4 separate regions of the Homo sapiens genome follow, and all the other regions are linked to region 1. A link means that fine-mapping ties the variant in region 1 to the expression of a gene that starts in the linked region. Tissue or cell type: whole blood. Region 1 holds a variant in brackets; each other region holds the start of a gene. Each region is shown on its reference strand, or each on the opposite one.

Region 1 (7,608 bases):
ACTCCTCGGTAACTTCTGATGAGGAATAGTCTAACTAAATGTGAGAATATGTAGCAAACGGTACCTATGCATATAATGGAGACATAGTAATTCAAGTTTCTACTCAGTGCCCTATTGGCCAGCATTTTCTGAGATGTGAACTAAAGGACAGTTCAGAAGATGCATGTGTTTGGGGGTGAGGAGGGGTCACAACGAGACCACTCAACTAACAGAATCATCAACATTAGAGGCACACTGTGAAACCAATTACAAACATTTCAGAGTTAGGAAGCACTCTGAAGACCTTCTAATCCAAACCCCTCCTCATTTAACAGATGAAAAAAATCCTTTTATAGACTGAGAGGAGTAAACTTCTTCTACAAAACATTTTAGTGACAGTTCCCAAAGATGAAAGAAATGAATGAATGAATGAAACAGCAGCTTACTAGTGAGGACAAAATATTAAAGGCCTGCATCAAGTCTGTTTTATTCAGAGAATCACTAAAACTGCTGCTGCCATCAGCAAATAGAAGTGAATTTCCTTTCCAAAAATGTTTTTAAATCATACTATATATAACTTTTAGGAAACAAGCATATATCAACACCAAATTGGAGCTATTGGTAAATTTTATTGGGAAATAGTCAAATGAAAAACGGGCAGATCCAAGCACAGACAGAATCAATGATAAAAGCAACGGGTGCGCAAGAAACCAAGATGAAAGAAATGTCACTGAAAATATTAATATTTTGAAAAATATATGTATATATAAAATTTCTTAATTATAACACATGTTAAATTTTTACTTATTAAATTTATTTTATATATAGTGATTTTCTGACCTTCCAAAACAATATAAACAATTATTTACTACACTCTTCTCAAAGTAGAATGGCATTTGTATAGCTGAGTTTTAATTTTGTAGTGACGCAGAACCTTTTAGCGTCACAGGTGTGGACTAGAAACCTAGCAAGGAGATAGGTGAATACGTAACACCTTTCACATGCAAAGTATCTCCTATAGCTCAAACACTATTTGTCCTATTGTGTAAGTAAAATGTCATCCAAGGGAAACTTTTTTGATAAACAGCCAACACGTGGGCAAGAGTGAAATCATAGGACATTTGCCTATTGGATACTGAAGACTATTTTGCTGCTTATGGTTTGATTTTGAGTTGTTCTATTTAAATTTCTCTCTTCCACCTCCAAAGAGCGTGAGGTATAGAACATCACTGTGATAATGATTCTGGGGATGAGGGTGGAGCATGAATCAGAATTTCCAAGGAAGCATTTTGCAGCTAAAAAAACAGCACATCACCACCCTCATCATAACCCATGGAGACACCTCTCAATCATCAAGGCTGCAAAACATATCAAGAGAGGCAAAGAATCCACACACTGGTAGGTGGACAGACCGAAGACAAAGGGCTCACACTGCTGAGCTTCCACTCAAAGTGAAAGTCCTTTCAGCTAGATCCTGAATCCGGTTAACAGGAATCTCCTCCCACTGCCCCACCCACAACCCAGCCCCCAACAGCCACTTGGGAACATCTAGCAGGACCAATGCTTGCTGATGAAGGAGACATCTATCCAACTGACAAGAACCTGGATAAAGAATCAGGAAGTGCCCCCCAAGTCACCAACACCAGCTTATCAGTTCACCACAAAGTATTTTCCGTATTTGCTTCATGGGTCAAATGATGCCCTTCCTGAACCCCCTGGGTTGGCCAAGGGGGCCAAGACCACATTTTCTTCCTGGCCAAGACCACATTTTCTTCCTCATTAGTATGCTAGGGCATTGCCAATACTCTATGACGGTGCTGTGTAATCCAGAAGCCACCAGCCACATGTTGTTATTTAAACTACTTAAACTAAATAAAACTTAAAATTCAGTTCCTTAGTCGCACAAGCCACATTCAAGTGCTCAAAAGCCACATGTGGTTGGTGGCTACCTACTCGACAGTGCCTATAATGAACATTTCCATCACTGCAGAAAATTACATGGAAAGCACTCCTATGTATTTCTTCTTAGAGGTAACATGTTTAAACAAAGACCATATTAAATAGCAGCAATCCTCTTTCATAAAAAATATTTTCTCCTCTTTCAGAGATTAGTATTCTTTTAAAGGTCCATATCTACCCTTTGGGATGAAATATATGTTATTTTTTCCATATATCATATTTTATGTTAACTATACTTACAACCTATGTCTCCTTTCTGTATTATCTCCCAACATATATTCTTATTTCTTCATAAATAATTTTCAGTATGTTAGGAATAATTCTCAACTATACACAATTCAGAAAAAGATTTAGAAAAAAAAGAAGTATGTGAAGTCCTTCTAAGGTCTGTTTGTCCCCAAGCATCATATTAAAAATAAAACCATAAATAGTAATAAGGATTGTACTGGTAACCTCCATTCATATTACTAGGTTACCTCCCATTTTGCTGATATTAACAGAAGAGACACATTTTTAATAAGGAAAACCACTGACATCGTATAGGGCAACGCTACGCCTTATGTTAGCATTCGCTATGACAGTAACACCATCTCCATCCACCTCTTCAACCTAGCCAAACAATGGGAAATAAGCCTAGATCCTTCCTGTCATCATTCATTTAAAAAATATTCAAGGTTAACAGACACTGTGTATACAGTGTTGAACGAAGCAGATGTGGCCCTGTCCTCGTGCAGCTTGCAGTTTGAATAAACGCCCCAGTACATCCCACATATTCAGTGCATTTCCCAACCTGCTAATGCTCTCTCCCAGATATTTATGGGTCTAACTCCTCCTCCCTGTTTACACTAGCTCTGAAGTAATCAGACCTTCATGGTTTAGTGAACCACAAAAAATTAGAAATCTAATCAGTTCTCCTAATTCTGGTCTCAACGCTTTCACACTACTGATTGAATGATCTTATAAAACACAGATTACATCATACCTCTCCCTGATTAAAATCCTTAAAGGACCTCCCATAGCTTTCAGGTTCCAGTCCAAATGCTCCAGCATGCTTGAAGGCACTAATAATCAAATCCTTATTGACCTGTCCATTCTCAACTCCCTTAACTCCCTTCCCTCTATCCCCTGAAGCACTCACAAACACCCCCATTAGGTATATCAAACTACTCAAAGTTTACCAACCATCCATCAGCTATCTCATACCTTCCTCGCCTTCACACCCATGGTCTCTTCCCTGGCCTCCTTATCCCCTCACTGTAGAGGCTGGCCTCTTTTTCATCTCAGTTCCTTTGTTATCACCCATCTTCGGAAGCTTCCTGACCCTCAACCCTCCCTCTTCAGGCTGATTTCAAAGCCCTTGCTAGCAGTACCACCACATCAACATGGGCAGAAGCTACAAAAGTGCCAAGCACGCTACTATTCTTATGTGTTCACCTCCCTCTCTTTCTGGCGACTGGAGCCTTGCCATGTGAAGTGGAATCCTGAGAGACAGGACCCCTGGCACCCCCGGGAGCTGGTAAGAGACGCAGACTCTCAGGCTCACCTCAGACCTCCTGCACCAGAATCTGCCTTTATTAACAAAGGCCCCAAGTGATTCCTGTGCATGTGAAAGTTTGGGAAGTCCTGCCCTCAGACTCTGAGCTCCTCCTACAGGATAGCACACTGACCACTCAGTTAATATAATGGATCAACAACAAATGGCACATGTTACAAAGAATATTATAAAGCAATACAAAGATATGTCACTTAAAGAAAGTAGTCTTGACATTTGTGTCTGACAAATAAACAATACTGACTTCATTCAAAGAATTATGAACAGCCCTTAGTGACAAATTTAATCTGTAACAGTTTACAAGGAGTGGGTATCTAAAGATGGTTTAATTTTAAAGATATGCCCATCTGTTTGCCAATCATTTGTGCAAGTCAAAAAAATGCAGTTAACATTAATATCTAATGCTATGTTACATAACATACTATTTCACAGGTTTCTTGCAGAAATCTTTCAGTTATTTCTACATAACTTTGAAGACTCTGGATATTCTGAGTAGCCTTTAT[G/TG]ATAAAAAAAAAAAGCTGTTCTTTTGTTCCTTCATGCAGTATTGAGGCTAACGTTTCCTTTCAAGGCAACTAATGAAATAGCACTTGGCTAACAGCTTATACTAAGTGCATGCCCACAGCACTAGCTTTTTCCAAAGTGGTCAAAAGGAGTATATTACCCCATACATAAATTATGCCACAAAAGCACAAGGATCATGAAAATTTGTGTCCTTTACACCCTGCAATTCAAAATTCAAATACCTCTCTGAAGCTAACTCCTAAAGGCTAAGCCCACTGAGAAGGTGGCCAGCACCTTGACCCTAACGTGGAGACAGCTGACCTGCTGCCGCAGTGCAGACACTAAGAAAATATGTCCAGCAGGGTCTTCATTCCATGTACACAACATGTCCTAGGAACAGATGGGCACACATTCTAATAGCACCTGAAGTACTCAACATTGTATGGCAAAAGAGAAATGAAGACAAACATGTATCTATATATACCATACCTAGGTGTAGATCACATATGTAGCTACATAAAATATGTGTATCTATCCCATATCTTTTTTTTTTTTTTAAGAGACAGGGTCTCGCTCTGTCACCCAAGCTGGAGTGCAGTGGCACAATCATAGCTCACTGCAGTCTCCCAACTCCTGGGCTCAAGTAATCCTCCCAGTGCGGGCTCCCAAGTAGTTGGGACTATAGTTGTGTACCACCACACCCAGCTAATTTTTTTTTTTTCCTGGGAAACAAAGTCTCACTATGTTGCCCAAACTGGTCTTGAACTCCTAGGCTCAGGGAATCCTCCTGCCTCAGCCTCTTAAAGTGCTGGGGTTACAGGTATGAGCCACTGCACCAGGTCTCATATCTTTTGAATGTTATCCTAATTAATTGTAATATGGTAGAGAAGAAAATCAAATGAAGAGACAGGTCTAGAAATAAGTAAATGAAAACTTTTTAAGTAATTTATTTTGGATAGGAAAAAAATTAAATTTCAGAAATGTATTTCAACCCACCTGGCAAGAATGCTTACAGTGCAGACTTATGGAAGAGTAATGTATATTTTACAAAATTTGCTGATTGCTAGTATGTATCTTGCTTAATATTATAAAATATCCTGGGTTTTGTAAAGCCCAGGGTGGTGTATAAAGGCTAGTAACACCATGTTTATTAGCCTGATTTTAAAAAAATCACCATTAGGAAAGATTTTCCCACTTATTCTAGACTTATTTCAAGCTACTGACTTGACACACAGAAGCTCCAGGTGATGTCAAGCCTACAAAAAGTGAGGGTGGAACAGAAGGAAGGGAAGGAAGGAGCTGCCCTGTGGCCATGCTCTGTCTGGGGACCCCGTGGCAATCACCAGCTCCTATAAGGCTGACACTGAACCTCTGGAGGAGGATGCAGAGGTGAGGCAAGGGCAAGCATGCAGAGGGGCTGAGAAAGCAGCAAACAGCTAGCTGCTCTTGTAAGAAGCGTGCTCTTCGTGTACTGACTGCAGTTGTCACTGATTAACTAACTGATTTGGCAATTTCCTACATTCTTCTACATTTTAAAAAATTTCTGGAAAGCTGAAAAGGGATCTTTTTTCATATTCTGGGGGAGTTTAAAAGTGTACTGAATCCTGCCTGGTTTGAAAGGCAAGGGATAGAAAGGGTGTAAACAGTCTTTTCTGATATACACCACTGACATTCTTTTCCTTAAAGGGAAAAAAACAAAACAAAACCCTGGGCAACATCACAACTGAAAAGAATTTGTCTATTCTCTTTGCTAGAACAGTGCACATGTGATAGGAAGGGAGTCTTATCCATCATGAATAAACCTGAGCACAGGACAGGCAAAGCATCACAGCATACCAATGGCAGGGGCCACACAGGGAGCTCCAGGGCTTTCGAAGACCCATGCCTGTTAAGGCAATGCAAAAAAGAAATACACAGGAATTATAAAAATTCAGATTTCCATTAGGGAAGCAAGCAATACAAACAGGAGTTCAAACTGTAAAGGAAGGTTGAGATCTTTGGAAGAGTATTAGAAAAAGTATTTTGGAAAACTGCACCCAATCTCAAAAAGGTAAACCTACAGGAAGAAAAAAAATGAAGAAAACAAATGTAACTTATTCAGTGACTATGACACTAAATTTTGGTTTCAAATCAAGTTATATTTGACAAAGGAGATGGAATTAAGGCTGAAATACAGAGTTAACAGTTGCATATCCAATATTTCACAGTCATTTCAACTTATAACAAATTTGGGAAACATTTTTTCTATGCAGTAGTCCCCCTTCATCCTGGGGATACGTACCAAGACCTCTAGTGGACACTCAAAACCATGCACAGTACCAAACCCCATTGCCGTCAGTTGGAACACATTTCTATCCATGTCTTCCACCCACAAATTTAATGTATTTTCCATCTTAACTAAGCATTTATCAGGCACTGTGACTGTAACTTTTGCAGTTTGAGATACAACAGCAAAATTAGCACAAATTTGTTTTTCCTTCCCCACAATTTAACTGATAGAAGATTCATTCTTACCATAAATAATACTTATGATTTATTTATAAGATGTATATCTCAATACACAAACTTTTTTCTTTATGAGCTTTTACCTTTTCATTTAAAGGAAGCATTTTCCTGCTTATCTTTGGCATATCCAAATCACCAGCATCACTACTCTTGCACTCTGGGGCCATTCTGAAGTAAAATAAGGGTGACTGGAACACAAGCACGTTGACACTGCCACAGTTGACCTGATAACCACAAGATGGCTACAAAGTGACTGAATGGGCAGGTAGCATCTACAGTGTGGGTATGCTGGACAGAGGAATAATTTATGTCCTGGATGGGACAGTGCAGGTCAATGCAATACTTCATCATGCTACTCAGAAGGGTACACAATTAAAAACTTAGGAGTTATTTCTGGAATTTTCCATTTAATATTTCCTTTTTTTTTTTTGAGACAGAGTCTCGCTCTGTCGCCCAGGCTGGAGTGCAGTGGCGCGATCTCAGCTAACTGAAAGCTCCACCTCCCGGGTTCACGCCATTCTCCTGCCTCAGCCTCCCAAGTAGCTGGGATTACAGGCGCCCGCCACTATGACCGGCTAATTTTTTGTATTTTTAGTAGAGACAGGGTTTCACCATGTTAGCCAGGATGGTCTTGATCTCCTGACCTCGTGATCCACCCGCCTCGGCCTCCCAAAGTACTGGGATTACAGGCGTGAGCCACCACGCCCGGCCTCCATTTAATATTTCTATACCAAAGTTGACCGCAGGTAACTGAAACCACTGAAACTGAAACCTTGGAAAGCAAAAACTTGGACTGGGGTGGGGCAGGGGGTCTACTGTACCTACATTTATCATTAATGCAAGTAGGTTCTACAATGCCACCATAATCAAAACTATAAATATCACACAGCGAAACATGCCATCTTTTAGCCAAATTAAATGTCTTCATTCATATTAGCATATGATAAAAGACAAAGTTTTATCCACAAACTCTGTATATTTAACTTAACATCTTCCTACATCTTCAACAAAGGTTCAACCCCAAACTGGCCTCTCTCCTTATTCCCCAGCAGTCATCTGGGTTTCCTTCCTCCAGAGAGTCATGTACTGGGGGAAAACTAACTTCAAGAAAC
Region 2 (7,054 bases), not on the chromosome of region 1:
CAACTGTCAAAGGGGTGAGAGTCACCTCTTTGGGCTGCCCTGAGAGCGAGTGGGTCCCGCGTTTATTATGATGGGCTGTGGACGAGGAGAGTTGGGAGGAGGCTGGCGTGGAGAGAGAAGGTGCTTGGGGGCTTTCTGCCCTGGCCTTCTGCTCCATCCCCTGTGGGACTGATGGGGAGACTGAGGCCCGTGAGGGCCCGTGTTCTGTAAAATATCCCTCAAATCCAGCCTCCTCTCTGCCCACCCCAGCCCCACCCCCACCACAAAGACCTCCCGGGTCTCCCAGCTTCTGCTTTATCCCCGGGAGCCCTTTGCTTGAAACTCACGACCTCACGTCCATTAACATGGGTATCAGGGTGCCCCATGGGAGGACAAATCCCTTTTTCTTTAGTGGGAGAAGCCGGCAGGGGCTTCGGGATTGGACAGAGCGTGAAGGGAGCACCGCCAGGGCACCGGCCCACATTAAATGTCTTCATCCGAGCATTCAGCAAGGGTTTATTGAGCACCTGCTATGCCCCAGGCCCTGTTCTAGCTTCTGTGGACACAGCCGTGCGCGACACAAGATTCCCACCTGGGGAGCCACAGTGGGAGAAGGTCATGGAAAAGAGAATGTACGGGACTGGGGGATGTCAGATGTTATCCAAGGTGTCAAGAAACGAAACAGAAGGGAAAGGGGGCTCACACGCGTGTGCGTGTTTGTACACGCGTGTGCCTGTGTGCCTGTGTTTGTACACGCGTGTGGGTGTGTGCGTTTGTTCCCGTGTGTGCTTGTGTGCCTGTTTGTACACGCGTGTGCGTGTGTGCCTGTGTGCACGCGTGTGTGTGTCTGTGTTTGTACATGTGTGTGCTTGTGTGCCTATGTTTGTACACGTTGGGGATCAGGGGTTGACCCTTTAAACGGGAATCCAGGGAAGCCTCACGGAGGAGGCAACATTCTACAGAGACCTGAGGGGGAGGAGGAGAGAGCCGTGGAAAGATCCGGAAGAAGGGTATTCCCGGCAGAGGGCACAGCCGTGCAAAGGCCCCGGGGCAGGATCACGCCTGGTGTGTTGGAGGAACAGCGAGGAGGCGAGGAGGCCCGTGTGGCTGCAGCAGAATGAGGAGGGGGAGAAAGGGTGGAGGGAGGACAGGAAGGGGACAGGGTAGGTCGTGCAGGTTCCTGTGGGCCCCCGGGAGGACTTGGGCTTTGACCCCAAGGCAAGAGCCATGGAGCGCTGTGGGCAGGGGAGGGGTGGGACCTGTGCTGGGGGGCAGGTGCTCGGCAAATACATGTTGCGTCGATGAATGTCGCTGTCGCTGCGTGGGGGAATCCAGTCCTCCCAGCGCCCCACAGCACAGGTGCTGCCCCCCCACCCCCCCACCCCGTCCCGAAGTGCTTGTCAAGGCTGGCGAGCGGGTGGGTCTCCAGGGCACCCAGCGGACTCACCGGGGATGGCCTGGCGGTGGCTGAGCTCCAAGCCAGGCAGCCTCATCGTGGCCTGGCAGTAGAGGGCGGGCGGGACAGGGGTCCCCAGGGGCGGCAGCCGCCAGCGCTCTGTCACCCTGAACAGCACGTCCTCGTCCCCCTGGGGCTCCTCCTCCTCCTCCTGCACCTCCGGGCCCAGGGCTTGCGCCCCCTCCAGTTCCTGGCCCCCGACGAGCAGGGAGAAGGAGAGCGCGTTGGGGTCCACGGGCGTGACTTTGTGGGCCGTACAGGCCACCTCCGGGTCACCAGGCACCAGGGCTGCTGGGGAGACGGTCAGCTGGTCCGGGAAGGCTGTGATGGAGGGTCGGGGGTGAGGGCTGAGCCCAGAGTCAGGGCTGGACGTGATGGAGGGGCCGGAGCCCGGAGGGGCTTGGAGCTGGGGCCAAGGATGCGTGGGGGCTGCTGATGAACAGGCAGTAGGGACGGCCTGTGCGCAGGCCCCGTGGCCCCACCCTGGGAGGCTGGAATAGACAGGAGGATGGGCCAGGGCCGGCCCTGGGAGAGTTGGGGTGAGTTGGAGGGAAGCGAAGGCCGGGGACCTGGCTTCGGGGAGCTGTGCATGGAGCTGGGACCCTGCCTGCAATCTGGGAGGCTTCCAGGAAGAGGTGGCATAGGGAAGGAGCCGGGAGTCCAAGGGTCAGAGAGGCAGGGCGCGGGGGGACGCCTCACCGTACACAAGGAGCTGCACGGTGTGCTGGAAGGTGCGGCCCCCGCAGGAGCCCACGCACACGCGGGTCCCGGCCGCCGACAGCGAGGCGTTGCGCACGGTGAGGACGCTGCGGCCCGTGTCCGACTGCACCGCGCCCAGGCTGGTGTCCAGGCCCCGCCACTGCACCGAGGCCCCGCGGTCCGCGCAGGCCAGGCGGCAGGTGAGCTGGCGCGAGGCGCCCAAGGCCACGGCCACCACCGGCTCCGGGGGCTCCACCTGCAGGGGCTTCACCTGGAGGGACTGGCCTGCGGCGACCGCGGCTCTCGCTCAGCCCCGCGGAGTCCCGGACCCCGCCCCGCCACCGGCCCTGCGTCCCGCTCCACCCCCGGACCCCGCCCCGCCTCTGCCCGGTTCCCGGACCCTCCGCTGCACCCCCGGACCCCTGCCCCGCCGCTACCCGGACTCCCAGGCTCGGTCCCTGAACCCCGCCCCGACCGCCGCCTCTGCCCCAGTCCCCCGAACCCCAGCTGCCTGGAGCCAGTTTCGCTGCGGGTCAGGGGGCCGCGCGGAGCCCCGCAACTTCCCCTCTCAGCCCCTGCCTCCTCCGAGCCCCCTCCTCTGGCAGGATCACCAATCACCCCCTATCTCGGAGCCCCTTAACTCTGAGCACCCCTCGTCTCTCCCGCGCCCCCTCCGAGCCCCTCCTCTCTCCTGCGCCCCCTCTTAACTCCCTCCTCTCTCCCGCGTCCCCTCCCCGCTCACCGCGCCCCTTCCTCTCCCCCGGGCCCCCTCCCCTCTCCCGGGCCCCCCTTCTCTTCCGAACCCCCTCCCCTCTCCCGAGCCCCCTCCCCTCTCCCGAGCCCCCCTTCTCTTCCAAACCCCCTCCCCTCTCCCGCGCCCCCTCCTCTCTCCTGAGTCCTCTTCACTTTACTGCGCCCCCTGCTCTCTCCTGCGCCCCCTCCCCTCCGCGCCCCTCCTCTCTCCTGCGCCCCTTCTCTCTCCTGAGCCCCTTCTCTCTCCTGAGCCCCCTCCACTCTCCTGCGCCCCCTCCTCTCCCCTGCGCCCCTCCTCTCTCCTGCGTCCCTCCTCTCTCCTGAGCCCCCCCACTCTACTGAGCCCCCTCCCCTCTCCTGAGCCCCCTCCTAACTCCCTCCTCTCTCCCGCGTCCCCTCCCCGCTCACCGCGCCCCTTCCTCTCCCCCGAGCCCCCTCCCCTCTCCCGCGCCCCCTCCTCTCTCCCGCGCCCCCTCCACTCTCCTGCGCCCCCTCCTCTCTCCTGCGCCCCCTCCCCTCCGCGCCCCCTCCTCTCTCCCGCGCCCCCTCCTCTCTCCTGCGCCCCTCCTCTCTCCTGAGCCCCCTCCACTCTCCTGAGCCCCCTCCTCTCTCCTGCGCCCCTCCTCTCTCCTGCGTCCCTCCTCTCTCCTGAGCCCCCCCACTCTACTGAGCCCCCTCCCCTCTCCTGGGCCCCCTCCTCTCTCCCGGGCCCTCTCCTCTCTCCTGAGCCCCCTCCCCTCTCCTGAGCCCCCTCCTCTCTCCTGAGCCCCCTCCTAACTCACTCCTCTCTCCCGCGCCCCCTCCCCTTCTCACCGAGGAGGAGCCCCAGAAGCCCCGCCAGCAGGAGGGCCAGTCCGAAATCCATGCTCAGTCCCCTCTGTCCCGAGGCCGCGGGGAAGCCGCTTAAATAGAGGCGCCCACTCCTTCCCGCCGCCCGGCGACCCCGCTCCAGCTGCTCCCCGGGGGCTTCCCAAGGGGCTTTCCTGGCCTGACCCCCGACCCTGGAGGCGGCAGAGAGGCAGGGGCTGGGGGCCAAAGATGGGGCGGGGTCCCGGGGCCACTCAGGACGGGCAGGCAGGAAGGTCTGGGTCTGTTCCAAGCCTCATATTCAGGCACGGGAAGATCGCAGACGGAGGCCGGAGGGTCGAGGTCAAGTGCATGGAAGTGGGACAGAGGCTGGGCAGCGCCGCCCCCACCCCGACGGCGGGTCCCCTGCACTTTCTTTTCTTTTTTTTCTGAGTTTCGCTCTTGTTGCCCAGGCTGGAGTGCAATGGTGCGATCTCAGCTCACCGCAACCTCTGTCTCCCGGGCTCAAGCGATTCTCCTGCCTCAGCCACTCCAGTAGCTGGGATTACAGGCATGCGTCACCACGCCTGGCTAATTTTGTATCTTTAGTAGAGACAGGGTTTCTCCATGTTGGGCAGGCTGGCCTCGAACTCCCGACCTCAGGTGATCCGCCCACCTCGGCCTCCCAAAGTGCTGAGATCACAGGCGTGAGCCACCGCGCCCGGCCCGCCTGCACTTTCCCGGGCGGCCGCACAGGGGCGGTGGAGAGCAGCCCTCCCCCGTTCCGGAGCTGCAGGCCGGGTCTTGTTGGCTGGGGTCCCCTGGGGGTCAGGTGAAGGTCGCTGGGGATGGAGGCCCCCTGGACTGAAGTCTCCTGGCCGTGGTGGAGCTGTGAGACCCTCCAGGACGTGGGACAAGTCACCCCATCTCTGAGCCTGGCTTCCTTCCATCACACGGGCAGAGGCCGCCCACCTAGCAGGCCTGGCTGGAGCCTGGGAGCCCGAGTAGGGGCTGCCTCTGTTCCTTGGTCTACACTGAGACCTGGATCTCGGTCCACAAGAGGGATCTGGAAGGGATGCTGGCTGGACTCCCACTCACAGCTGCCATCAGCGAGTCCTGGGAACCTCATCTTCCAAACGCACTGGAATCCACCCACCTGTTCCTCCAAGCCCCGCACACTGGTTCTGTCTCCGCTGGTGGCTTGTTTACCCCCCTGCATCACCGGGACCCTCCCAGGGCCTCTGGGACTCTGCCCGGGCTGCTCCTCACCTTACCCAGGTTCTGCCCACCCCCTCACCCCCTCGCCCCCCACCCTCCTCCGCTGTGGTTCCCAGGGTGCTCTGCTCCTAGCTCAATGAGGGCCTGTGGTGGCAGTCGTGATGGCTGGCTCCCCTCCACCCAGGGGCCGGTCCTGTGACCCTGGACCCCATGCACCGCAGGCACGCGGGAATAAAATGATGGAGCATTCCTGCTGACCTCAGGGTCTGTCTGTGCCTCAGTTTCCCTGGCCATGGAATAAAAAGCAGCAGCCAGTCCATGGGGTTCCAAGCATTGCCAATCGGCTTACCTGTCAGAGGAGGGAAACTGAGGCCCAGGGGCAGGGCTGGGACCAGAGGAGGGAAACTGAGGCCCAGGGGCGGGGCTGGGACCAGAGGAGGAAAACTGAGGCCCAGAGGAGGGGCTGGGATCAGAGGAGGGAAACTGAGGCCCAGGGGCGGGGCTGGGACCAGAGGAGGGAAACTGAGGCCCAGAGGAGGGGCTGGGATCAGAGGAGGGAAACTGAGGCCCAGGGGTGGGGCTGGGACCAGAGGAGGGAAACTGAGATCCAGGGCAGGGCCTGGGTGCAAAGGAGGGAAACTGAGGCCTAGGGGAGGGGCTGGGTGCAGAGGAGGCAAAATGAGGCTCGGGGGAGGGGCTGGGTGCTGAGGAGGGAAACTGAGGCCTAGAGGAGGGGCTGGGTGCAAAGGAGAGAAACTGAGGCCTAGAGGAGGGAAACTGAGGCCCGGGGTGGGGAAACAGTCCCCTCAGAGGTGAGGGCCCAGGTGTGTGAGCTCACAGCCCTGTCTCCCTGGGTCCCATCCCCCTCCTGCCCAGGCTGGTGCCGGGAAAGGCCTCACCGGAAAGCAGACTCCGAGGAGGGGCCCTCCCCAGGCCGGAGGTGCAGGCCCTTCCCGGGAAGCTGGGCCCTTAACCCGGGCGGGGGGCAGCAGGCCTGGTGAATGGGCTGTTTCCCAGCCCCCGACCCTACTTCCTGCAGGTGGGGAGGGACCACTGGGCGCCAGGAGGGCTGAGGCCCCTTGCAGGGTGTGTCCCAGCTCTCCAGGGCCCTGTCCCCCGCCCGCCCGCTGGGTCACGCGTGGTGATCACGCTGCTCACAGTCCCCGTGTGCCGAGCCCTCACATCCACAGGCTTGTGGGGGCGGGGAGACAACAAAGCTGGGGTCCCCCTGAGGACAGGGCAGGTGGGATGGACACAGGAAGGAGGAGGGAGGGTTCCCAGAGGCAGAGGGACCCGCAGGTTTCAACGGCCAGAGGTGGGGAAGGCGGGGGTGAGGGAGACACAGAGACAGAGAGAGAGAGACAGAGACACAGAGAGACAGAGACAGAGTGAGGAAGAGAGACATAGGGAGACAGAGACACAGAGAGGGAGAGACAGATCAAGGAAGAGAGACAAGGCAGAGAGACACAGGGAGATAGAGACACAGAGAGACAGAGACAGAGCGAGGAAGAGAGAAGGCAGAGAGACACAGGGAGACAGAGACAGAGACACAGAGAGGCAGAGGCAGAGGGATGGAGAGACCGAGGTGGGCCAGCAGCCTGAGGGCCGGGGAGGACCCTGAGACCCCTGGGTCTGAGTCCTAGTCCCACAGGAAGGCCTACACCGTATCTTCCGCCGGCAACGGGGACCTCCTTTTTGTCCTTGGGAGACTCGACCCCGCCCCCAACATCAATCCCCTTCCCGGCATTGTCCTCGGCGGCCTCCGTCAGGAAGCCCCCTTCCCATGGAGGGTCCCAGCCAGGAAGCCCCCCTTCCCATGGAGGGTCCCAGCCATCCCACCAGCCCCAGACCCCACATCCTGGCCTCCCTGTCCACAGCTGCCGAGGGAGCGTTCCAGATGACTGTGTTGCCCTGAGGGGAAGGGGCTGTGAGGGCGCCGTTGTCCAGGAGCGGAGCACGCCCCAGGCCCTGACAGACCCTTCTTGACCCAGCTGGGCCAGCTCTCCTGTCTCCCACCCACTGGTCAGTTCTGGGGTCCTCATGGCTTTTTCTTTGGAGTGAGGACCCCCATCACGGCAGGGCCTCCTTGTTGGACAAGGCTTGAACCCAGTCCAAGGACCCCAGACCTGAGGGTCGCAAGGAGAGTGGGGGAGGAATGAGATT
Region 3 (7,608 bases), not on the chromosome of region 1:
AGTCCCAGCTACCTGGGAGGCTGAGGCAGGAGAATCGCTTGAACCTGGGAGGCGGAGGTTGCAGTGAGCTGAGATTGTGCCACTGCGCTCCAGCCTGGGCGACAGAGCGAGACTTGTCTCAAAAAATATATATATATGTGTGTATATATATATTTTTATTATTTTATAAAAATATTTTTATATATTTTATATTTATTATTTTATAAAATAATAAATATTATAATTATAAATGATATTTATAATTATATAAATATTATTATAATTATAAAATAATTATAAATATTATATATTTTATTTAAATAAAATATATATTTATTATTTATAATATATGTATGTGTGTGTGTATATATATATATTAGCCAGACGTGGTGGACCCACGTGGTGGCACCTGTGGTTCCAGCTACCCCCCATTCCAAGCTGAGAGGGTGGCTTGAGCCCAGGAGATGGAGGCTGTAGTGAGCTGCGATCGCGCCACTGCACTGGGTGAGAGCTATGAGAAAACTTAGTGACAAGGAAACTCTCCCTCTAACCCTTCCCAGGGAGGAATCTTTTTTTTTTTTTTTGAGACCCAGGCTGGAGTGCAGTGGTGTGATCTCAGCTCACTGCAATCTCCGCCTCCGGGGTTCAAGCGATTCTCCTTCCTCAGCCTCCTGAGTAGTTGGCATTACAGGCACCCACAACCACACTCGGCTAATTTTTTTTTTTTGTATTTTAGTAGAGACGGGGTTTCACTATGTTGCTCAGGCTGGTCTCGAACACCTGACCTCGTGATCCACCCGCCTCAGCCTCCCAAAGTGCTGGGATGACAGGCCTGAGCCACGGGGCCCGGCGCCCAGGAAATAACCAGAACTGCAAGCCGCGGACAGGGGTGGAAAGGTGGGGACTTTTGCCCCTTTTCCCAAAGACAGAGGCGGCCCCTGCCCTGGGCCACAGGACTGGTGAATGGAGAGACACAAAGAATCTCAGTAAGTTTGTTGATTGACAGCAGATCGGGGCCTCCCTTCTCAGTAAGTTTGTTGATTGACAACAGATCGGGGCCTCCCTTCTCAGTAAGTTTGTTGATTGACAGCAGATCGGGGCCTCCCTTCTCAGTAAGTTTGTTGATTGACAACAGATCGGGGCCTCCCTTCTCAGTAAGTTTGTTGATTGACAGCAGATCGGGGCCTCCCTTCTCAGTAAGTTTGTTGATTGACAACAGATCGGGGCCTCCCTTCTCAGTAAGTTTGTTGATTGACAGCAGATCGGGGCCTCCCTTCTCAGTAAGTTTGTTGATTGACAACAGATCGGGGCCTCCCTTCTCAGTAAGTTTGTTGATTGACAACAGATCGGGGCCTCCCTTCTCAGTAAGTTTGTTGATTGACAGCAGATCGGGGCCTCCCTGCAGGATCTCATTTAACCCCTCAACGGCCCATGGCGGGTATTTTCCCGTTTCACAGAGGTGCAGACCGAGGCGCGGAGAGGGGACCACCCAGCCCACGATGCCACCCCAGGTCCCCACGAGCGGCCCCGACGCGCCCCTCCGTCGCAGCCTCCACCCTCCCCAGGCCTCTGGCCTCCGCCCCTGCGCCCCCCGCCCCGCCCGGCGGCACCTGGAGAATCACGATGTCGTTGAGCAAGTTTACGGGGTCGTAGCCGTTTTCGAAGATGCGCTGCACGGCGAACACCTGCCGGGTGGGCTCCCGCCGCGAGAGGTTATGGGCTCCCAGGACCACCCGCACCGCGCGGACGTTTCTGCCGGGGAGGGAGAGGCGGGGCTCAGGGGCGGCCCCGGGGGTCGGGGCTCAGCCGCGCCTTGTCGTCCCCATCCGGCGACGGGCCTGAGGGCGAAGGTGCTCGAGGGGCCCCGCGGGCCCTGGACGGACCCCCCCCCGCCAGCAGCCCCGGCCCCGGCCTCCCCCCACCCACCTCACAGACCGGGACGCGGGGTCCGAGCCGGGCGCGCACACTCCCGGCTACTCACACATTCGCCACGCAGTGCGCGGCCGACATGACGAAGTTGGGCGCAATCAGGGTGGCGCCGCAGAAGTGGCCTCCGCGCAGCTGCAGGGACACCATGAAGGGCCACGCGTGGGGCCGCGCTCGCCGGCCCCCCACAATCTCCGAGGCCAGCGCGGTGCCTGGGGACACACCGGGTGCGGGTGCTGAGTGCCTGCCAAGGAGCCTGTCCCCTCCCGGCCACGGGGCCTCTGGATCCCCCACCAGGAACCCACGGGATCCCCCACCGGGAACCCACGGGATCCCCCACCGGGAACCCACGGGATCGGGGCCGTTCGCACCCCTGTTGTTCAGATGAGGAAACTGAGGCACGGAGAGGCAAAGGGACCTCCCCACGGTGCCCCTCCAAGGCACAGACAGACCTGGACTTGAACCCAGAGGGCGACCTGCGACCCCCCCCCCCTCCCCGGTTTTCAAACCCCAACTCTGGGCTCCTGGTGGTGGCTTCACCGCTCAGAACCTCAGTCTCTTCTGGTCTCCTTGTCCCAGCTGGCACCTCCCCTGTGAGGATGAGGGACCCACACTGGTGGGGCCCTCTATGGAGAGGTGGGAACAGAACCCGGGACAGAGGGAGCAGCGGGAGGTTGGACTCAAAAACTCACCCCCCAGCAGCAAGGCCGGCAGGACACAGGCGAGGAAAAGACACGCGAGTCGGCGGCCGAGGGTCATGGTGGGGCTGGGGCTCCGGGGTCTCTGCCCCTCCGTGCCCGCCCGGCTCCTCTTATAGCCCTGTGCTGGGAGGCCGTTGCATTGCCCCACGGCCGGCCAGCGCCCTCCACTTCCTCTCCCCTGGCACAGGGCGTTGATGAAAAGGGGGAGAAGGGGGACAAGACGCTGGATTGGCTCGGGTGGGGCCTCCAGACAAAATTCAGGATGCACAATCGCATTCAAATGTCAGATAATCAATGTGGGTTTTTTAATTTATTTTTTTGGAGACAGAGTCTTGCTCTATCGCCCAGGCTGGAGTGCGGTGGCGTGATCCCGGCTCACGGCAACCTCCGCCTCCCAGGTTCAAGTGATTCTCCTGCCTCAGCCTCCTGAATAGCTGAGATTACAGGCACCTGCCACCACTCCCGGCTAATTTTTGTATTTGTAGTAGAGACAGTGTTTCGCCCTGTCGGCCAGGCTGGTCTTGAACATCTGACCTCGGGTGATCCGCCTGCCTCAGCCTCCCAGAGTGCTGGGATCACAGGCGTGAGCCACTGCGCCTGGCTAATTTTTTGTATTTTTAGTAGAGACGGGGTTTCACCGTGTTGGCCGGGCTGGTCTCGACGTTTTTTTTTTAATCTAAGTCTCTTCCAAATGAGGCCCAGGATATACTTACCCGAAATTCAGATTTAACCGAGCGTTGCTGTGTTTTTGCCAAACCTGCCAAACCTAGACCTGAGGGACTTGATGGGGGTGGCCTCGCCTGCCTCAGTTTACCCAGGGCCCCGTGATACCGGCCACATGCAGCTGTGTCGCCTGCCTCTGTTTATCCAGGGCCCCGTGATACCGGCCACATGCAGCTGTGTCACCTGCCTCAGTTTACCCAGGGCCCTGTGATACGGCCACATGCAGCTGTGTCGCCTGCCTCAGTTTACCCAGGGCCCTGTGATACCGGCCACATGCAGCTGTGTCGCCTGCCTCAGTTTACCCAGGGCCCTGTGATACCGGCCACATGCAGCTGTGTCGCCTGCCTCAGTTTACCCAGGGCCCTGTGATACCGGCCACATGCAGCTGTGTCGGGCACTCACTGCGCAATAGGCACTTCTCTGGTCCTTCCCAGGGTTCCTGTTTGGGAACTGAGGCACGTCAAGGGCCTCCCCCAGGAGCTGCGAGTGTAACCCAGGCCTCTGGGACCCGCAGCTGGACGGAGATCTGGGGCCGGCTCACTCCAGCCGCTCCCTGAACCTCAGGGCTCATTCTTGGGGGCCAGGCCTTCCATCCTCTCCTCGTCTGTTGCCTCCAACGGGGAACTCACTTTCACCCAGGCTCACGGTCAGTCCCTGGACACCAGCTGGGGCTCTGACAATCTCTCCCGCCCTTCTGCCTTGGTGAGCTTCCCTGAAGCCCTCCCCGCCTGAGGCAGGGGCTGGGCGGGCATCTGGCAGGGCTGCTGGAGAGAGAATTCCTGTCCAGGCCGGGAGGCTGGAGTGAGGACCAAGCCTGAGGGCTTCCGCCTGGAGGAACTGGCAGGGGAGCTGGAGTCCCAGCTGCGGGAAAGGGATTCCCAGGACCCAGCCCCGGGCTCCGGGCCCCGTTCCTCTTCCCATCTCCCCCACGATGTTCCAGCTGCAACGGCCGGGCCAAGGCTGTCGCAAGAACCAACGTCCTCCTGGCTCCAGGACAAGGGGAGGGGAAGGGAACCAACGGGCCTGTCTCCAGGAATAGGCGGGGCGAGGGCACCCGGGGACACGCAGAGCCTGGGCCAGGCTGGAGTCCTGACGTGACCACAGGCAAGTGGACCCCCATGGCTCTCGGGTTAGGGAGACAATGGCCCTGCCCTCCCAGAGCCTGGCACACAGCAGGCGCTCAGTCCATGTCTGCCCTGTCCTCAGCTTAATCAGACACACACTACCCTGCCTTCTCCCCTCCCCTTTTGGCAGGGTTCCCACCTTGCTGCCTTAACATCACCACAGTGCACTTAGTAAGCGCCTACTGTCTACACAGCCCTGTTTCAAGTCGGGGGTGGGGGGATTTCAGGGGTGGGGGACGCCGTATCTTTGGAAGGGGCTTGGCCTCCAGCACGGAGATCAGACTTGGCGTCAGCTGCATTTATTGAGCACCAGCTGTATACTACATTCTCACGTGCAGTCATTATTAAGTGTGCCGACGCTGGGTTCATATCCTGGTTCTGGTGTGGCCATTTGGCCACTGTGTAACTTCAGGCCCCTGAAATAAACTCTCCGTGACTCAGTTTCCTCCTCTGTAAAATTATAATCGTAGGATCCATCACATAAACCTGTCAAGAGGATGAAATAAATTCACGTTCATAAAGTTCTTAGCTAAGAAAGTGTTGTCTGGCCGGGCGCGGTGGCTCAGGCCTGTAATCCCAACACTTTGGGAGGCTGAGGCGGGTGTATCACCTGAGGTTGGGAATTCCAGCCTGACCAACATGGACAAACCCCGTCTCTACCAAAAATACAAAATTAGCCTGGCGTGGTGGTACCTGCCTGTAATCCCGGCTACTCGGGAGACTGAGGCAGGAGAATTGCTTGAACCTAGGAGGCGGAGGTTGCAGTGAGCCGAGATCATGCCACTGCACTCCAGCCTGGGCGACAGAGCGAGACTCCGTCTCAAAAAAAAAAAAAAAAAAAAAAAAAAAAAGAAAGTGTTGCTTTGAGAGCTGGTTCACCATTAACTGTGGCAGGGAAGGTAGGGGTGTTATGGTCACAGCGGGTGTAGACTCCGAGGGGGACGTGGGGTCTTCTGGGAGGCCAGGAGATTGCTAAGATTACAGTGACCTGGAGGTGTTCATATGTAAAGAGTCACTGAGGACCCACCTGGGCAACACAGCCAGACCCCGTCTCTACAAAAACTAAGAAAATAGCTGGGTGTGGTGGCACCTGTAGTCCCAGCTACTCGGGAGGCTGAGGTGGGAGGATCACTTGAGCCCAGGAGGTTGAGGCTGCGGTAAGCCAAGATTGCACCACTGCACTACAGACTGGGCGACAGAGTGAGACCCTGTCTCAAAAATAAATAAGTAGGCCAGCTGTAAATAAGTAAGTAGGCTCACGCCTGTAAACCCAGCACTTTGGGAAGCTGAGGCGGGTGGACCACCTGAGGTCAGGAGTTCGAGACCAGCCTGGACAACGTGGTGAAACCCTGTCTGTACTAAAAATATAAAAATTAACTGGGCGTGGTGGTCTGTGCCTGTAGTCCCAGCTACTCCGGAGGCTGAGGCAGGAGAATCGCTTCAACCCGGGTGGCGGAGCTTGCAGTGAGCCGAGATCACACCACTGCACTCCAGCCTGGGTGACAGAGCGAGACTCTGTCTCAAAAAAATATTAAAAAGAAAAAAAAAACACCAGCAATGAGCTTCATTTCTTCTCTACACGTGTCCTGGAGCAGGTCGTCCCCTCTCTGTGGCTAATGCCTCCTTCTAGTGGCCACTTGCCCGTCTTTGAGCTGGACTGTGAGTCCCACCTCTTCCCCGCCTCGGACCTCCCCTCTGGCCACCCCCCCACCCAGTTCATTGCTCATGCTTCTACCAGGGAACTCCTGCCCTGCCTACCCCTCCTACGAGAAATAGCGCTCCAACCCCATTACCCCTCCCCTGCACCCACATCCCTCCCCTGCCTGCCCTCCTCCCCGTCCCCTGGCCTCTAGCCCTCAGGTCTCTGCCTGGACTGTGCCCCCTGCCTGGCAGCCCTTCGGATGTTTCTGTTCACACCTTGATATGCAGCTCTGGCACTGCCACCTCCTCCAGGAAGCCCCCCAGGCTGCTTCCCCATCCCCATCCCCTTCCTCAAGGAGTCCCTGAGCCAGCAGGGACAGTTCTAGGAAACGTCTGGGGCGAGTCCATTTTCCAGATGAGGAAACTGAGGCACGGAGATGAATAACAACCTGCCCAGGGCCACCCTGATGGGGCCGGGTTAGAACCCACAGCCACGAGCATCCAGGAGAGAGACCCCCTGCAACCTGGGCCCCCATCCCCCGCTCCGACTCCCCCCATCCTGAGTTTGGGGCTCGGGGACTTGAACCCAGGGGACCTCTCCCTGGTTCCCTCCCTATATGGGAAGGACAGACAGGAGCCAGGGGGAGTTTCAACGTTTATTGAGGTCACGGTGGGCAGTTCCCCCTCCCCTCCCTATATGGGAAGGACAGACAGGAGCCAGGGGGAGTTTCAACGTTTATTGAGGTCACGGTGGGGTGAGGTGCAGGGCCGGCCTGTCTCCCGGAGCCCCGTGGGAGGGAGTGTGGGGGGACGGGTGGGGCCGTCCCGGACGCCACAGTGTTCGGGGAAGAGCTGCTTCTGTCCAAAGATCCGCCTCGAGGGTTTGGAGCCAGGCTCGGGGTCCCGGCCAGCGCTGTGGGAGGGGCGGTTCAGGGGCGGCCCTTGGCCTCCACACGGCGCAGCGTGGAACGGATCCAGTCCACGTAGAGGGCTACCCGCGTGAAGAAGTCAGGGAAAAGGCGGGTGGCACATCCCCAGATCACGAAGGAGTCTATTCCTTGGATGATGCCATCACAGATCAGGGGGCCACCTGAGTCTCCCTGGAGGACAGGGACGGCCAGTCACCCATCAGGGGCCACCTGAGTCTCCCTGGAGGATGGGGACGGCCAGTCACCCATCAGGGGCCACCTGAGTCTCCCGGGAGGATGGGGACAGCCAGTCACCCGGGCTGGCCCCAGGCAGCCAGGAAGGGGGCTGGGGTAGCCACAGCTGTTTCAGAATAAAATGCTTCCAATATGGAACTTTCTTTCTTTCTTTCTCTCTCTCTCTCTCTCTCTCTCTCTTTCTTTTTCTTTCTTTCTTTCTTTCTTTCTCTCTTTTTCTTTCTTTCTTCTTTCTTTCTCTCTCTATCTCTTTCTTTCTTTCTCCTTTTGTTTTGTTTTGTTTTGTTTTTGTTTTGTTTGCGACAGAGTCTCGCTCTGTCACCCAGGCTGGAGTGCAGTGCCGTGATCTCG
Region 4 (7,608 bases), not on the chromosome of region 1:
TCCCCTCCCCTCCCCTCTCCTCTCCTCTCTTCCCTTCTCTCTTTCCTGAAACACGGTCTCATGCTGTCACCCAGGCTGTGGTGCAGTGGCGTGATCACAGTTTACTTCAGCCTCTACCTCCCAGGCTCAAGCAATCCTCCTGCCTCAGCCTCCCAAGTAGCTGGGACCACAGGTGTGCACCACCATGCCTGGATACTTTTTATTTTGTTGTAGAGACAGTCTCACTATGTTGCCTAGGCTGGTCTTGAACTCCTAGGCTCAAGCAATCCCCTTGCCTCGGCCTCCTAACAGATATGAGCCACTGTGTCCAGGCTTGGTTCTTCCCAGCCCCATATTTGGAAATCAGGGTAGCTCCCCAGCAGGCCATGAGAAGTGTCCTCAAAGCTGAGAGAGTAGACCTGGCTCAACCAGTTCTCTTGGATTGGAGGACAGAAGCATGGGAATGCATTCTTTGTTCTCTCTGCCCACCAGCAAATGTACCCTCCCCCTCCCAGTGTCATATCAGGGGAAACTCCTGACCTGGGAAAAACAAGTATACCATTAGTGCATTCTATCTAAGCAAGCCTTTGCACACCGTTTATAAAACTGTAAACTCCTTTTGGCTTATACATCTTCCCTTCCTCTAGGACTGAACATTGTCAGGCACATAGGAGGTGTTCAATGAACATTTATCAATCTAAAACAAAGATACTTCCACAGGACCTTGGCAGTTGTACATTCACTGCTGACAGTAAAAGAGACCCAGAGCACTGTGTTCTCTGACCAACAACAACAACCACAACAAAAATAGCATGGGATTTGGTCAGAGGCCTTAGATTTCAGTCTTGGTTTAGCCACCCAAGAGCTCTGTGGCTGTGGAGAAGCCACAGAACCTTGCTGAGACTTGGTTTGCTTATCAATTAAAAACAAACAAACAAAAAACAAAATATTCTAAGATATGAGGGTGCACCTGGAAGCACTGTGCAAACTTGTAAAGTGCTATATGAACAAAATGTGGTATATCCGTAAATGGAACATTATTCAGTCATAAAAAGGAATGAAGTACTGATACATGTTACCATATGGATGGACCTTGAAAACATGATGCTAAGTGGAAGAAGTCAGACACAAAAGCCCTGTATTGTATGATTCCATTTCTACAAAATGTCTGGAACAGGCAAATCCATAGAGACAAAGCAAATTAGTGGTTTGTAGGGACTGGAAGGAGAAGAGAATGAACTTTGAGTGCTTAATGGGTATGTGGTCTCCTTTTGGAGTGATGAAAATGTTCTGTAACTAGTGGTGATGATTGTACATTATGATTGTACTAAATGCCACTGAAGTGTGCATTTCAAAATGGTTAAAATGATACCAAATTGCGTATGTGTGTGCTTTTTACCACAATTCTAAAAAGCAAAAAAAAAAAAAAGTTATATGACGGTTAATCAGCCTGAGAAGTCATCGATTTTTGCAGTCAACATGCAGTCTCTATTTTTTGGCGTTGAGAGAACTTACAAGGAGTAGGTGCATCTCCACTAAGAAGCCTCTTCTGAAGACAGCAGGGATGGGAGTGGGAGAGGGAAGAAGGAGTTCTGGCCCATCTGAAAAGAAAGCTTCCCTTCTGGATGGTATTTGTTTCGTAGATTGCCAGTTGTTCACCCTGTTTGTATTTAAATGAAAGGAGGCTTTGAAGTGGGAGCCGCCTCTGAGCACGGCTTGGGGTTCCTGCCTCCCTTGGTAAAGTTCAGACTTGTCCAGATCTGTTTGTAGCCAGAGGTTACTGTTTCTGGTGGAAAAGGCTCAAGTTTGGGTTAATAATACATTATGAGGAAGAGCAGGAGTAAACCTGGGGAGGGCGGGGGCGGCGGGGGGGAGCGGCGGCAACGAATGAGTTCCTCCCAGCCTTGGTGTGAGAAGTAGCTTTCTGATTTGGCCTTCATGGTTCAGGAGTATCATTTTCTCTCTTACGGTCACTGGCTTCCATTTTATAATAATGCTCGTTGCATCTCAGAGCATATTCTCCTTGGTGAAGAACATCTTTAAGTAAATGTATCAATCAATGAAAATTAAAAGTGCTCAGCTAAGCCCTAGCAATGCCTTCAGGACTTGATGGTTACCAGTTTAAGGAAAGTCTTGAAAATGGCAGGAAATTCAATTGTAGTTGAGTTTGCACATTAAAAAAATTGCTCTCCTAGTTTCAGAGTTAAATATTCAGCCAGCCCACAGAAATTGGAAGTCACAGTTATAGACGGGTCACAGTCTGTTCATGTTGATAGTCTGTTAACAAAATGTAGAAGAGTCTGCAAGCAGGTATTCAAAATAACAGCTCCTCATAGCCAGCCATGTCAACGTGGTTTACAAACAACAGTGGAGAAAGTCTCAACAAACCCTCTGAGGGTGATAACTGTAATGATGGTTCGTATCTTTGCCCTATGTAATTTTATGGGAATTGAGAGTCTAGCCAAATAATAAGTTCCAGCCCTTTTTATCTGCCCAGTTCCCAGCACACTCCCGAGGTGTCTGAGGCACTTCTCAACCCAACCTCTTAAAGCAGATTGTAACAATAACAACGGTAATGACAAGTTCCCGAGCTGCACAGTTCCCTTCATTTAAGGAGCGCTGGGAGCTTCAAAAAAACACTCATTAATGGAATCTGACAAAGCTTGCAAGATGGGAAGTCTCTCCCATTTCCAGTTTTCTGGTGGAAAAGTGGGGACTGAGTCCCAGAGGGGTGTCAGTCTCTCTCAAGGGGCTTGAGGGGGTAGGGGGTTTGGGAGTCCTGGGCTACCATTATTCCATGAAATTCGAGAGTCAAGAGTCCCGGGTTCTGGACGCCCCCTTCCCCGGCGTGCTATTTACCAAGTCGCTTCCCATTTCTGGGCCCCAGTTCCCTTAATAGAAGGAAGGGTTGGGCCAAATGGTCTCCAAGATCTCTGCGGTCAACCCTGTCTTTGCCCCCTCACCTCGCGGTTGGGGGTTTCTCCCGCTTCAGAGTTCGGTTAGACTTGTAGTAGAACCGGGTCGGGGGTGGGAGTGGCGTCGAGGGGTTGGAGTGTTGCGGATGCGGGAAGGAGGATGCCTGATGGGGTCCTGGACAAACTGGTGTTTCACGAGTACCGTCCTATGGGAAGCAGGTCTGGGGAGACCAGGTGAGGCTCTAGGACGAGCTCGGAGCCCCAAATCCCCCTGCTGCCTGCAGCGAAACAATGCGAGTAATGTGCCTTCCCCGCCCAGCCCGGGAGCTGCGCGGATAGGAGCGTCCGCGGGTGCGGGATGGCAGCGGGGAGGCGGATATCGCGGCGGGAGGGCTCCGCGCGGCTTTTGCCCATAGGCGGCGGGTCAGGTGGCCGCGCGCAAGAAGGCCTGGGGCTCAGACATGGGCTTCGGGACAAGTCCCAGGCCGTCCCGTTCCCCAGAACCTGGGCCCTTCAGCCCGGAGTAGTTGGCCTTCCCTTTGTGGTTGGGGGGCGGTGGGCTGGCTCCCCGCCTCCGAGGAGGAGGGGAGGAAGGAGGAGCCGGGTGGGGCGTGTCACGCGAAGGAGCGCCGGGCGCCCGGTGCGGCCCCCTAGGAAGTGGATTTGGCCGCTCCGGATCCAACCCGGCTTCCAGGTTTTCTCCCGGCCCGGCCCAGCGTGCTCCCGCCTGTCTCCGGCCCCCCCACGACGCCCGCCCCCTCCCCCCGAGTGCCGCCCGCTTGGCCAAGTTTGCGGAGCGTCGCCGCGCACGCCGGCCAGTCAATCAGCGGCAGAGCTGAGAAGGGCACAGCCGCGCGGCGGAGGGCAGAGTCAGCCGAGCCGAGTCCAGCCGGACGAGCGGACCAGCGCAGGGCAGCCCAAGCAGCGCGCAGCGAACGCCCGCCGCCGCCCACACCCTCTGCGGTCCCCGCGGCGCCTGCCACCCTTCCCTCCTTCCCCGCGTCCCCGCCTCGCCGGCCAGTCAGCTTGCCGGGTTCGCTGCCCCGCGAAACCCCGAGGTCACCAGCCCGCGCCTCTGCTTCCCTGGGCCGCGCGCCGCCTCCACGCCCTCCTTCTCCCCTGGCCCGGCGCCTGGCACCGGGGACCGTTGCCTGACGCGAGGCCCAGCTCTACTTTTCGCCCCGCGTCTCCTCCGCCTGCTCGCCTCTTCCACCAACTCCAACTCCTTCTCCCTCCAGCTCCACTCGCTAGTCCCCGACTCCGCCAGCCCTCGGCCCGCTGCCGTAGCGCCGCTTCCCGTCCGGTCCCAAAGGTGGGAACGCGTCCGCCCCGGCCCGCACCATGGCACGGTTCGGCTTGCCCGCGCTTCTCTGCACCCTGGCAGTGCTCAGCGCCGCGCTGCTGGCTGCCGAGCTCAAGTCGAAAAGTTGCTCGGAAGTGCGACGTCTTTACGTGTCCAAAGGCTTCAACAAGAACGATGCCCCCCTCCACGAGATCAACGGTAGGTGGGCACACCCGGGAGGTGGGCGCAGAGACCGACACTTCGGGAAGGGAGGCTGCAACTCCCTTCCCCCGCCCCGCCGCCCCCTGCGCCGGACGCAGGTACACTAGAGGGAGAAATGGGCAGTCGAGAGGGCAGGAGCGAGCGAGCGAGAGAGCCAGGCAGCCCGGGCGCAGGACGTTCCCCGCGGGCGCAGCGCTCCCCCCTTCCCAGCACTGCGAGCGGAGGGGCGCCGCCGGGTTGCCCAGTGCGACTGTCGCGCTCCGCTCCCCGCCTCCGCTCCTCCTCTCCCCCCTGCATTATTCGCCGTCCCGGGAAGCCCCTGAGGACTGTGGCCCTCAAAGTGCGTGTCACCGGCTACTTCTCCTTTTCCGGGTTGAACTCCTTATAGGACGCCCCGCTTTGTTGTATGGGTGAGGAGAGGCCGGGTGGGGGTGGGGGTCGCCAGTGGGGTGTGGTGGAGGGAAACGTCCCGGAGCTTGCTAGATTCTGGGGGTCGCAAAACGTGGAACTTGAATTGATGTTTCATTGATGTTCTTTTAAAACTCTCTCCCCGCCTCTCTTGCACCGCTGACAAGGATTAGGAGTTTTAGTAGCCGCAACCGCTTCAGAAGTCGCCTTTAAAAAGCAAACGACTACCCCCACTCTCCACCCCTCCAAACCCTGACTTTTGGGAACTCTCCTACTTTCCGGAAGGTATCAGACCAGAGGAGTATTTTTCCCCTCTTTCTTTTTTCTTACCTCATTTTAAGGGTTAATTGCACTTTCAATTACAGACCTTTGAAAGGACTGATTACAGGAAACCTGAATCTCAGTTTGGAGATGGTTATGCAAATAGAGACGGCTTAGCCTGTGAGAAAGTTCACCGGATTTTGGCGCCGGTGGGGTGGGATGGGGGGTGTATGGGGGTATTTGTGAAAGCCCCTCTCGGAGCGCTGGGGAGGCAGCGTTCGGCGGGTGCCCTGCGTCCCTCCCAGCGAAGCTGGCGGCGGTGTCCGGCCGGGTCCCCTCCGGGTCGCACTGTCTTCTTAGCAGCGGCCAACTGTTGCGCGCAGCCCCGCCGGCCGCGCAGGTAGCCCGTTCGCCCTGGGGGCTCAGAAAGCACCACGAATCTAGCTGGCTGGTGGCCAGCGTAATCTAACGGAGGAGTGAGAGATTCGAGCCCGGGGGGGGGGCTGAGCCTCCACTCCGAACCTTTCATGGAAGTGAGTGGAGCGCGCCTTTGCCTTGCCGTGCTGGTCTCCGGGTGGGGCGGGCAGGGGGCCGGCAGCCAGCAAAGGAAATACTGTAATTTCAACCAGGCGCTTCCAAAGGCTTAGGAAGATTTGGGGGTCATTTTTTGGAAGGGCTATTAATAACCTTGGAGATTAAGTGCAGTCATCAATTACATATTAATTACAAAGGTAATTGAGGGAAGTTGCTGGGCACTTTTGGAGTGTAACTGGCGTCTGTCTAGAAATAGAAGCGAAGAAATTGTTGGAGCAGCCCAGGCGCCCACTGCACCTTGGCAGTTACCAAATAACATGCTCACTACTGATTAGACACTGTTTGCCCTTCAGCTGCCTGTCTTTTGGGGAGCTCAAGTATGTCCTCAAAGCGGCACGATTTTATTGGTTGTAGAGCCCTGAAAAGCCCTCTTTCTTTCCCTTCCTCCTGCCCCGCCAGAAAAAAAATGAAGTGAACCACCAGCCGCTGAAGCTTGGGGACTCTGCAGGTCAAACCTGGGGTCTTTGTGCCCTGCACAGTTTAGGCCTGGGCACAGCGGAGATGATTGGCGTGAAGGTTACAGTTGTCATTCCCACATTTTGAAGGGGTAGATGCAGCTCTGCACTTAATGGGAATGTGACAAGGTTTCATCTTCTGCTCATGCAAACAATATGTGCCTTTGATATTGACTGCAGGCATTCAGCGAGTGGGGTTGTGAAACTGCCCTCCCCAGTTTCCCCAACTTTGCTCTGTGCAGTCTTTCGCTGTGGCAGGGCATCTTCCCCAGCCAGCATCTCAGGAAAAAGGAAGCTTGAAGGGTGCTCAGAGACTCTGTGCTAGGTGTTCCCTTTGATTGTCATCATCCCCAGAAATCACCTGAGGGATATTTTGCGTATATGTCTATCTGGACATTCCCCCATGCCAAAGATAGGGGAGTTATTAGTGACCAGCAGCAGGAAATGGAAGCTAATGTGCTCACACCCAAAACATTTTATTCTTTTTGTCTTGTCCTTCATCTCCCTCCCTGGGCTGCTGCTTTTATTTCCCCTTTTGAATGACCTACTGGACTGCATTCTCCTGAGGAACAAAGGAAGTGCCTTTTTAGCTGGAATCCTTGGAAGACCACCAAGGACTTTAGCTCATGCAGTGCAATTTCGCACCACTTTCAACAATAACAAAAATGCATGACTGAATGGCTCAAAAATGTGGAGTGTTAGAGGCATTCATTTGAGTCTAGGACACTGTCACAACACAGACAGACCCAAGTAAATACCTTTAGACGGCCAGTATAGAAACAGGCGTAATCTTTACCATCACCCTGGCCTCTCCAGATGCATACATTAGCCTTGTCTTCTCTGAGCTACACTCAGATAATTTTGGTCATTTTTTAAGGGGGATAGTCAATATAGTGACTTGTATTCAGCCTAGGTCTGGATGGATTAATTGCCAGGCACTTTGCCTGGGATGGGGAATGTGCTTTTTTCAGTGCAAAACACCCAGGATCATTTTCCAGGTGAAGTATCACAAAGTCTGGGTACCTAGCTCATTGAGCCCCAGGCTCAGCCCAAGTTTAATGTTTTATTCCAGATGGCCTTGCACTTGCCTTCTAGAGGTTTGAACAGGCTTTAAGAATACTCCATGTTCTGGAGGAGTCTCAGTCTTTATAGATCATAGTTAGGATCATCTGATGTGCTCTCAAGGGTGTCAGGGAGTACATCATGCTGACAGGGCTTCCAACTGAGGTCCTGCATTGCCTGTCTGCTTGACCCCTGTACTTTTCAAATAATGCTGAGTCCAGGTGCCATGATCAAAAGGGATCTTTAACACAAAGATTATGTTTTTGTTCAGCTTTCAATGGCCATGTACTTTTGGAGCGCCCACTATGTGCAGTATCCTCTGCTCAGCATTGTGGAGACAGCAAGAAAGGCAGGAGGGGCTTCTGCCACCAGGACCTTTCCTATTAGTAAGGAGATAAGCCACGCACACACAAAATTAGAATACAACACA

Evidence for each region.
Region 2: MADCAM1 starts here. The variant in region 1 is fine-mapped to the expression of MADCAM1 in whole blood (TOPMed, PIP above 0.99).
Region 3: ELANE starts here. The variant in region 1 is fine-mapped to the expression of ELANE in whole blood (TOPMed, PIP above 0.99).
Region 4: it holds the start of GPC4, and the variant in region 1 is fine-mapped to the expression of GPC4 in whole blood (TOPMed, PIP 0.92).

The regions. Positions count from the first base shown.
Region 1 is chr8:60,730,178-60,737,785 of GRCh38, reverse strand. The region is part of intron 1 of CHD7 (chromodomain helicase DNA binding protein 7); the gene reads right to left. Among named protein-coding and RNA genes, the nearest start is that of CHD7, 55 kb to the right of the region's middle. The variant G/TG (reference allele first, on the strand shown) is at 3,994.
Region 2 is chr19:493,198-500,251 of GRCh38, reverse strand. It overlaps MADCAM1 (mucosal vascular addressin cell adhesion molecule 1), which reads right to left and starts at 3,766. Exons shown (of 5, transcript NM_130760.3): 1 at 3,701-3,766; 2 at 2,135-2,419; 3 at 1,427-1,756. The coding sequence starts at 3,752. MADCAM1-AS1 (MADCAM1 antisense RNA 1) reads left to right here. Exons shown (of 3, transcript XR_936221.4): 3 at 392-483. RefSeq lists a silencer at 4,399-4,448.
Region 3 is chr19:847,385-854,992 of GRCh38, reverse strand. ELANE (elastase, neutrophil expressed) reads right to left here and starts at 2,690. Exons shown (of 5, transcript NM_001972.4): 1 at 2,598-2,690; 2 at 1,961-2,117; 3 at 1,590-1,731. The coding sequence starts at 2,664. PRTN3 (proteinase 3) reads right to left here. Exons shown (of 5, transcript NM_002777.4): 5 at 6,818-7,194. The coding sequence ends at 7,024. RefSeq lists an enhancer at 3,456-4,168.
Region 4 is chrX:133,411,593-133,419,200 of GRCh38, reverse strand. GPC4 (glypican 4) reads left to right here and starts at 3,712. Exons shown (of 9, transcript NM_001448.3): 1 at 3,712-4,395. The coding sequence starts at 4,236. RefSeq lists enhancers at 1,311-1,850, 2,973-3,473.